Linked DNA regions of Homo sapiens: region 2 is linked to region 1. The links come from fine-mapping of genetic effects on gene expression. Tissue or cell type: fibroblasts. Region 1 holds a variant in brackets; the other region holds the start of a gene. All regions are shown on one strand. Distances are from middle to middle.

Region 1 (5,213 bases):
GGTTTCTGTAGCAGGACTAAAAGACTGCTCTCCTAAATTGAGAACAGCTGGGGCTGTGTGCTAGCAAGTATAAAAGAGGTGGCAGTGGTGCCCCGTGTCCGAAAGAAGTGTGTGCTCTCTGGAGCCTGTGGAGCTGAAGCCAAAGGTAGTTATCCTCATCAGTGTCGTGGTGGGTGAGTCCCCTGAGCTGGTCCTCTGGAGGCCCGTTTCTGTTGTTTGGTAGAAATTGTGGTAGCTGAATCAAAATATTGTTAGTTACTAATTTATCATGCCAATTGTAGTGAGGTATTTTTATCCTTCAAATAAATTCTACTTGTTACCTGCGTGAGAGACATAGCTAAGGCTTGGTGTATCTTTTCAGAGTTATTTTGAAGGCTGCCAGCTTTTCTTGTATATGGTGTGCGTCTCTGAATATAAAAGGATAAACTGAGGCTGTGCCATTTTAAAAATCTTGAATGTGTTGTTCTTGAATCTGTTCTTAAAAGCGGTCACTTAAAAAGACTTCTGTTTTTTAATTAGAAAATAGAAAATTGACTATTTTGACAAATGAAGAGTAACAATTATTCAATGCATATAAGCCTCTTACCAGTTTTTTATTCTTTCTTTATGGCTCATAGAAAATACAGTCTTAGGAAGGATTGATGTGATCTCTGGGTAATTTCTAGCTTATTATGACTTCATGGTTAGCAACAAGTGATAGTGTCTGATGAAGTGTTTGCAATGTTAGGTCCTGATTTTTCTTTAAGGAAATTTAAAGGGAACTGATTGTTAAAATGTTCCTATTTCTACCAATACTAGCTCAAAAAGAGACAAGAATTCCAAGATAAAACTGTTCAGTATTTTGTAAATAAACTTGATCTCAGCAGCTTTAACTAGGTTCTGACGTTACATTTATAAAGCAAATGGCTTTGGTATTTGTTTCCTTAGTTTAAGAATGTTTCTGTTTTGGATGGTTGACAGTTGGACAAGCATAGTTTCTGAACATAATTTTGTTTTGCTTTTAGGTGGGATAGTAACATCTTTTTGAGGGAAGAATTGGCTTCCTTTCTTGAAAGTGGTGAAGGTACAGCATATAGCTGCATGGAAGAAACAGTAATCGGATGGCTACCTTCTACATTTTGTATTAGGAAACAAAGTCCATTGTAAGAGTCCATGTTGATCTTGGAAATAGAAGGATTGAAAAAAGCTAAATTTCCACAAAGAACAAGAACTTGACCATCTCCTTTTTGATCTGAAGACTAGGGGACAATGGATATCATAGAGACAGCAAAACTTGAAGAACATTTGGAAAATCAACCCAGTGATCCTACGAACACTTATGCAAGACCCGCTGAACCTGTTGAAGAAGAAAACAAAAATGGCAATGGTAAACCCAAGAGCTTATCCAGTGGGCTGCGAAAAGGCACCAAAAAGTACCCGGACTATATCCAAATTGCTATGCCCACTGAATCAAGGAACAAATTTCCACTAGAGTGGTGGAAAACGGGCATTGCCTTCATATATGCAGTTTTCAACCTCGTCTTGACAACCGTCATGATCACAGTTGTACATGAGAGGGTCCCTCCCAAGGAGCTTAGCCCTCCACTCCCAGACAAGTTTTTTGATTACATTGATAGGGTGAAATGGGCATTTTCTGTATCAGAAATAAATGGGATTATATTAGTTGGATTATGGATCACCCAGTGGCTGTTTCTGAGATACAAGTAAGTAAATCTAATGTTTTGAGGATTTGTCATGGGTTTGTTTTTGAGTGAATAGATGGGTTATTGAGATTATTTTTCCTTTTTTTCCCCCAATAAATTCAGTCTTACCCAAACATTTGATGAAAGAAAACAGTAGAAAGCTCTACCACATTGAATAAATTCAGTCACTATTCAGTAAGTGTTTGATGAGCAACTGTGTATGAAAGTGGCAGTGTACAGCAGTACTGTGGTGGATGACTCAGAGTTGATGAATTTAAGGTGCAGTTCCTGACTTCCAGCAACTTGGTGCTATGGTATTTGTATGATAAATCAAGAGGCTTGGAAAGGAATAACATTCACTCCCATCATGTTTGTTATTTCAGGCTCTTGACAAGTGGGAAAAGGAATAGGTTGAGAAACTTTTTTCTCCATTACTCATAATGTGATGTCTGTATTGGTCTAGAGTCAATAGCCTGCTTTAAGGTTTGCCTAGATTCAATTCTCAAATTTTACATTTCTGTGGGGCTGGGTGTGTGGATGTGGTTTCGGTTTTTTGTTTGCTTGCTATCTAGTTACAAGTGTTTAAGAGACTGAGTTTAGAACCAGATCCATGCGGTTTTGATTTTTAGATTTCTAAAGTAAACTTGCCCTCTGATTTTCCTTGGACACCACAAAGGAGCTCATGGTTCACTGGGTTCAGCCTCCTCATTTTTGGAATAGTAGGAAATCAAGAAGAAATAAGTCAGGTACTTTTGCTTTGAAGACACTTAAGAATTGGACATAGCCCTGAAGTGGTTATTTCTGCTTCTCTATGTGAATTCTGACTCCTAGTCCATAAAAACGAAGGCTCCTTAATTCCTCCTTTCCTCTCATTCATCATTTAGACATTTGTTTTCCACTGGGATGGTAGTGATTAAATCACTAAAATATGATTTTGATCAAAACACTGACCATAATACAGAGTTTAAAAATGTAATGTATGCTAACTTGGATACAATCTGAA[C/G]ATTCCAAGTCAAATAGGATTTCAGTATTAATGCCACAAGATCATTCTTAGAGAATTTTGGCTGTATTGTTTTTTAGTTGGTAACACTTTTCATTACTTGATCAATTATAGAACTCTCAATGTGGTATATCCACTCAGACCCTAACACTGTTACTGTTTTGTGATTAGAGGAATTCAGTCTATCTTTGTTAAAGAGTTCCCCAAATGCAACTTTGCAGTCTTAAAACCTTATTCCACAAACTGCAGTCATTCCTAAGCATTTTCCTTAATATAACTCTTCATGTGTTTCCTTAATATGCTTAAGTAATAGACTTAGCTATGAGTTGTCTTTTACTTAAAAAAGTAACCTGCTCCTGAAATTGTTAAAGGATGCTTTATGCTAAAAGCAAAAAATGTATTTATGAACTTCAGTGTTTTTCTCTTTAGTGTCTGGAAATTAACACAATGTAAGAGCCTGCTAAGGCGGCAGATAATTTGCTTTCTCCTTTATTTAGAGCAAGGTTTTATTGATATATGTGTGAAAAGAGAAATTGTCCAGAATCTGGTAAGTATGTGGACTCCACCCTGAAGTACAGTCTTTCCCTCAATTTAGCTGTATTTTCATCTAGATCCTTTTTGAATTTTCATTAGATAGTTATTATTAACTGCCTCTACCTACCACCTTAGATTTTCAACATGTCCAAACACACGGTCACATAGCCAGACCATAAATTTTAATGATATCCACTGTTTCAGTCGCAATTCACACAAGTTTGCCTTTTTACATTTGAAGTAGAATTGGATCTTACATTTTAGTAACTAGTAGAATAATTTTTATAACCTGTTTTGAACATCCCAGCTGAATGAGGAATGTTGCTTGCTCTCTCTTTTAAAAGCACCTTTCAAAGCTATGGGAAAAAGTCATTAGCACTAGTTCTTTTTCTAAATAAGGCTGTAGAGTACATCTTTCACCTTCTAAGTTGGTTTTCTGTTCTGAGTACAGCTGAACTCAGAATGCTGGAATGAATGTAATTGACTCATAATAATTTCTGCTTATTACTTCCCCTTGTCTAACAGCATGGAGCACAATTCAAAACAGCACTCTGTTGGAACCTGAGGTTGGATCAAAGGCTAAATTGGTTTTCCCTTAACCAAGGGAAGAAACTCAGCACTGTTTATTACCTGCTCCTTTTTAGTACCAGGAAAGGCAGAACTAGAATAGCAAGCCTTTAAAGAAATTCCTTGGGGATAAATAAATACTCTCATCTACTAGTCTAGGTGGTGTTCCCTTCTATTTTTTTTTTGACCCCAGAAACCTTGGAATATTCTTAAAATAGCTGTTGGAAACAGACAGCTGAAATATATATTTATACATAATTCTTGAAATTAGAAGTTCCAAATGTTATCTGAATTAGACCTTGATTCATGTCAGAACCACAATCTTAGGGAAAACTTAAAATATGTCACATTACCTGAAACTGCCTGTTTTTTCAGAAGTCTTTGATCACTACCAGTCTTGAAAGCTTGAGACCTCTGAAAATGAGAGACCTAGAGTAATATGTTTTATGCAGTAATGAAGTTACACCTAGCAAGTCTAGGGGCTTTATGTGGAGTCCCACTCATCTCTTAATCCCCAGAGCCCAGAGCTGACAGACCTAACTATACAACAGAAAAGGAGCTGTCCTGTTCAGCTGGACTAAAGACATTCAGACCCATGATGCCCATTCAGATACCCATGAGGCAATGGTACAGTGGCAGAGCCCTTCCCTTTTGAAGACAGGATCCTCCGTCATCCACTGGGAAGCCTGCCTCAGGCTGAGGACTCAGGTCATGAAGCACAGGGGCTGATGTTAGGACAACGTTCTTCTCACAAAAATATAAAGTGAAAAATGACTTGTGGGATTTTTTTATCCTTTTTTTGATCAAGATTGAATGAAATAATCAGCTTACACATTCACTATTAAATGTAATTAACTGTATGAGAACACTTTGGACATTTTCAAGATAGAGTTTTTTGAAAATCTAGTCATAGAGAAAATAGTTCATGCCCGTATTGTCAAAATACCTTCAGATGGTCCTCAAATAAACCCTGCTTATATACCGTGGGCTAAATGTGTTGTCACATTTCCCTATGTGTCTAATTATGTAATGTCACCTTGGCTCATTAGTTAATTCCTCTGTTACTGTGGCTTGCTTATTCCTTTCATATGTTCTCAAGAAAGGGTTTTAATGCAGTGAGTTGACTGAAAATACAGACAGGTTCATTCTCTGGCAAAGAGTGCTTTTGAGGAGAGGTGACTATGTAGACTCTTCGTCTACTTTAGTTCCCCCACCCCACACACACACATCCTTTGGAAGCCAAACCACCTAGATTTATTGCAGTATGTGAATCTTCATTTCTGAAAACTGTGGTGCAAATCTCTCCATGAAACTGTAGGGATGGGCAACTCAAAAGTAAGCCTTTAAACTCTGTGAAACTGTGGTTTGTTTGTTAATGCCATTCTGTACTGATTATTCTTTATCCTGTTAAACATTGTTTTATTTTTCAT
Region 2 (5,115 bases), 72 kb before region 1:
CTCCTTATTGAAGGGGAAAAATAAACCCCAGGACAATAACTTTCGATTGGTGGTCTCCTCTGGGTTCTAACCTTTAAAAGTAGCTCTAAAAGAGTCCATTTTCCACAACAATGATGTTGAGCCCTTGGTTAATTTTAGGAGCATTTTCATTTGGGGGAAACTTCTGTATTGTGACAACATCTTTTTTTGGTTTTATATTTTAAAAATTTGGGGGGACCGGGCACAGTGGCTCATGTCTGTAAATCCCAGCACTTTGCGAGGCCGAGAAGGGTGGATCGCAAGGTCAAGAGTTCGAGAACAGCCTGACTAACATGTTGAGACCCTGTCTCTGCTAAAAATACAAAAATTAGCCAGGGTTGGTGGCACACACCTGTAATCCCAGCTACTCGGGAGGCTGAGGCAGGAGAATTGCTTGAACCCAGGAGGTGGAGGTTGCAGTGAGCTGAGATTAAGCCACTGCACTCCAGCCCAGGCGACAGAGCAAGACTCCATCTCAAAAAAATTTTTTTAAATTTAATTTTTGTAGGTACATAGTAGGTATATTTATGGGGTACACACAATATTTTGATATAGGCACATAATGCATAATAATCACATCAGAGTAAATGGGATATCTACCATCTCAAACATTTATCCTTTCTTTATGTTACAAACCAATTATATTCTTAGTTATTTTAAAATGCACAATTACTGTTGCCTGTAGTTGCCCTGTTTTGCTATCAAATACTATACCTTATTCATTCTATCTAACTATATATATATTTTTTACCCATTACCCATCCCCCCTACCCTTCCCAGCCTCTGGTAACCATCATTCTACTGTCTCCATGAGTTCAATTGTTTTAAATGTTAGCTCCCATGAATAAGTGAGAACATGTGAAATTTGTCTTTCTGTGCCTGGCTTATTTCACTTAACATAATGACCTCTAGTTCCATCTATGTTGTTGCAAATGCCAGGATCTCATTCTTTGTTATGGCTGAATAGTACTCCATGGGTATATGTAACGATTTATCCATTCATCTGTTGATGGACACTTAGGTTGCTTCCAAACCTTGGCTATTGTGAGTAGTGCTGCAATAAACATAGGAGTGCAGGTATCTCTTTGATACACTGATTTCCTTTTTTGGGCATATATACCTAGCAGTGAGATTGCTAGGTCATACGGTATCTCTATTTTTAGTTTTATGAGGAACTTCCATACTGTTCTCCATAGTGGTTATACTTTTTACATTCCCACAAACACAAGGGTTCCTTTTTTTTTCCACAACCTCGCCAGTATTTATTGCCTGAGCACCTTTTCATATACCTGTTTGCTATTTGTATGTCTTCTTTTGAGAAATGTCTATTCAAATCTTTTGCCCATTTATTACTCGGACTATTAGATTTTTTTTTCCTATAGAGTTGTTGGAGCTCCTCATATATTCTGGTTATTAATCCCTTGTCAGATGGATAGTTCCCATTCTGTGGGTTGTCTCTTCAGTTTGTTTCCTTTGCTGTGCAGAAGCTTTTTAGCTTAATATGATCCCATTTGTCCATTTTCTTTGGTTGCCTGTACTGTGACGACATCTTGAAGTTGCGAGTTTGGGGATTGCCTGCCTTGTATATTCTTTTCTGTTACCATCATCTTTAATAGCCACAAATGACTGTTGACCCACATGATATCTGCACTAGAAACCCAAAGATTCCCGTCATTATTTTTGTTGATTATATGGAAGCACCCATAAACCAGCGCAAATCCTAAACATAATTATCTTGTCCAGAAGGAGACATTAATGTAAAACTTATGTCAAGAAAGATTTAGCCACATTCCCTCGGATTGGTCATTCCTAGTTAGAGTCCTTGAGGCTGCCATCGTTTACTTTGAAAACTGCCCAGCAGGTGTATGAATAGCAACTCCAGGACAATGTAGAACCATTACCATTTTAAAGACAGCAATCCCCCTTTTAAAAAACTACTGAGGCCTTCGAAGAAACCACACGGCTGCCTTGGGCCCCAAAAGCTGCGGAAAAGCGCAGTATTCAGTTAAGCAAATAACTACTTACACTGTTTATTTTGGTTACGATTCCTTAAGTGAGAAGTAAATCAATTAACAGGACAAATGACACGATGGTTAGGCACGAAAGGGACAGTGCTGCCACCTCATTAGCTTGGAGCAACCTTCCAGCTCATACCATGCGGACTGATGACTAACCTTGCCAGGCAACGCTGTGAGGTTTGGAAACCCACCTCTTTGACCTAGGCCCGGTCAACACCGATAAACCCTCTGAATCAACGCTGGCGCTCCCAAGCCCACTCACACGCCGTCAGGAAGCAGTTTCCGAAACAGGCCGGGTGCGGGGGTGGGGGATCCCGTTCCAGCCCCACCCCTGAAAGTTGCTGGGAGTGGCACCCAAAGAACTTTCCCAGATTGATCTCTGTTGCCGCTCAGGGAGGTCAGCTCCAGGCCCTCAGCCTTTCGGCCGGGAGCCAAACTGCCCTGCCTGCCAAGCCCCTCCTTCTCTGCACCTTAAACAGCCGCGAGGGGAGAGTCGGCTGGGATTTTCTTCTTAAGAAGTCGCGCAGGTTTTTCGAGCTCCACTCTGCGCCAGGAGAGCCACGGCAGCAGGAACGGGCACTGCTGCCACCGGGCCGACGGGTGAGTCACTGTTTGGAAATGGAGTGGGCGGGCGAGGGTGTGAGAGAATGAATGATGTCAAGAGCGCGCTGGGCGCAGGGCGCAGGGAGCGGGCCGCGCGCGGCGGGCGGGGAGAGCGGGCGCGGGGCCGCGGTCAACACTGAGCGCCGCGCCGTGGGCCGAGTGGGGCGGGGAGACCCAGCCCTCGGCGCGCACGGAGCCTGGCCGGTGCTGCAGCGCCGCCGAGTGCGGCCTCGGGGGCGGCGGCCGCGGGAGGGACCCGGAGAGCTGCTTCCCCTAGTCAGGCCGCGGCGTGGGAGGGCGAGACCCCGAGCAAACTTTCTAGCGGCTTCGGCCCGAGGGTGGTGACGCCCGGGGCTGGTCGCGGCGGCTGCGGCAGCGGGCTCCATCCCCTGGCAAATCCCCTTCCCGGGAGCAAGTGCCTTCAGCTGGGAGTGTCTGGAGCCCTGGCCACCAGCGGGTAAGGAGCGCGCGGAGGGGCCAGGAGGAGGATGGGCTGGGGAGCGGAGAGTCCTCCGAAGCGCGGGAGGGGAAAGGTGGATTGCGAAGCGGGGACGTGGCTCTAATCCGGCCCCCACCCTCCCCGCCCAGGGCATGCTTCCTCGATTTTGTGGTCTGGAGGAGAGATGTGTGCCTTAGTCTCCTTCCTCTGAGCAGTCATCTCATTCATTTGCAACCCATTTCGGGTACCCCGGTCCTGGCGTTGGAAGGGCACAGGTTAAACCCCAGATTGTCCAGAACCACTCCGGAGGTCAGGGCTGAAGTTCAGTTGGTGGAGGAGGGACTGTGTGTGTGTGTTTGTGTGTGTGGTTTTTCTTTTCTTTCTCTTTTTTTTTTTTTTTTTTTTTGAGAGGCACTTACTGATGATGTGTGAACAGTAACAGCCCAGCTCTGGGCAGCCCACACCGAAACCCTTCAACGTGTGGCATTCCAGAGCTGCTCCCTTTACGGAAGGGAAGACTTGGTTTCTCAGCGAAAATAAGGGGCGGGGAACCCCTGTCAACATCCATCCAGAGGTATGGATAATCATTAATTATCCACGGCTTGAAACCAACTCAAAATGTTATGTCCTGTAGTCTTTTTTATTTATTAATGTTGCCGGTCCTCTATTTCAAGTCTTGCCTGCTCTGAAATGACCTTAAAATCATTTTGACATGTGTGTTATATTTTGAAGAGATTCAACTGTTTAGTGTCACTGGATTCGGCGTGGGTTTTCAATCTGTACCTAACTTTTCAAATCCTTGGTTTCATTACCAGTCTCCTCTATTAACGGTGGGTGCTCAGGCACATTAAACATTCTGAACCAGTAAAATGGGATTATAGCTACTTCAGATAATAAGGTGGATTAAATAAGGATTAATAATGAGGATAATAATGAGGATTAAAGCGCAAAAGACTTCTCATAATGTCTGGTACAAAGCAGACCCCAACAAATTATAGCTGTTTATATATAAATAATAGTGTGTTGCAGCTGGCTTAGGTAATAACCAATTAATTTCCACAGAATGTCCTCCTTATAAGCCTGGTGGGCCGAGGGTTAGCATGTGAAATCCTTTGGCAAGTTCCTTAGATTGGGAAGTGATGTTTTCAGCAAGTTAAACATTTTTAGTACGGATACCTGAGAAGGTTATGGTTTCCATCCTGTGTCATGGGAACTGCCATTTACTGTTTAAACAATGTCAGAGCAATGGCTGAAAGTGACAACCTGGAATTTACAGGAAGAAAGGACGTGAGGAAGCTAACTTTACCTTTACCTTTTTTTTTTCCTAAAGAAGCAGTGCAAGCAGTGCAAAATTTCCTCTTTATGGCCCTTTCCTTGGTCTTCTAATGTTCTTACTTCACAATAGTCTGGTTGAAGTGTTTTTTTTTTTAACAAGTTAATGTTTAATTTGGTTCCTTTGGTTTCATTTTTAAGTAAAGCTAGTTGACTTGTGAACCTAGAGGGAAACACTTGGACACCTTGAGGTGGCTGCACCTTGTTCTGAGTTTCTCCCCTCGCAGAATCTCATAAAAGCCCTAGGAAATGTTTGGAAGAAACTTTAGCACTTGTGCACGTTATTGAAGACATTTGCTCTTACCATAACTATAACAACTTACAGGGTGAAAGATCTGGGAGCTGTCCTACGACAGTACCGTGTAGTGAGATCATGGACATGGGAATCCAGGAGACCTGAGGCTCTCTGAGCTGTGTTCCTTTGAGCAAGTTTACTTAAACTCTTTGGGATTTTTGTGGGACTTTAAACAAAATATAGGGGAAAAATAGAAATAATCTTAGAACTATTAAAATAGACAATGGAGTATCAGTGAGAACTTTTTTTAAAAGTGATGCTTTGAGGTGAGATGTTTCTTTTTTAAAGGAATAATTACTGAGAGTTTTGGACAGTTTTAGACTAAACAATGACTTACCCACCTTTAGCGTGTTGTCTCAATGGAGAAATTGAAGGCTTTGTCTTGAACTACTAGTATCAGATATTTATTT

Which allele goes with the higher level. Alleles are on the strand shown, and positions count from the first base shown. SD is a standard deviation of normalised expression in the study named.
As copies of G replace C in region 1, the expression in fibroblasts of the gene that starts at base 2,775 in region 2 goes down (moderate effect, 0.47 SD a copy in GTEx).

Evidence for each region. PIP is the estimated chance that this variant, and not a neighbour inherited with it, causes the effect.
Region 2: it holds the start of SGMS2, and the variant in region 1 is fine-mapped to the expression of SGMS2 in fibroblasts (GTEx, PIP 0.93).

The regions. Positions count from the first base shown.
Region 1 is chr4:107,894,306-107,899,518 of GRCh38, forward strand. It overlaps SGMS2 (sphingomyelin synthase 2), which reads left to right. Exons shown (of 7, transcript NM_001375905.1): 3 at 1,005-1,703. The coding sequence starts at 1,249. The region is part of intron 1 of CYP2U1-AS1 (CYP2U1 and SGMS2 antisense RNA 1); the gene reads right to left. Among named protein-coding and RNA genes, the nearest start is that of CYP2U1, 35 kb to the right of the region's middle. The variant C/G (reference allele first, on the strand shown) is at 2,686.
Region 2 is chr4:107,822,158-107,827,272 of GRCh38, forward strand. It overlaps SGMS2 (sphingomyelin synthase 2), which reads left to right and starts at 2,775. Exons shown (of 7, transcript NM_001375905.1): 1 at 2,775-3,096. RefSeq lists an enhancer at 4,993-5,115.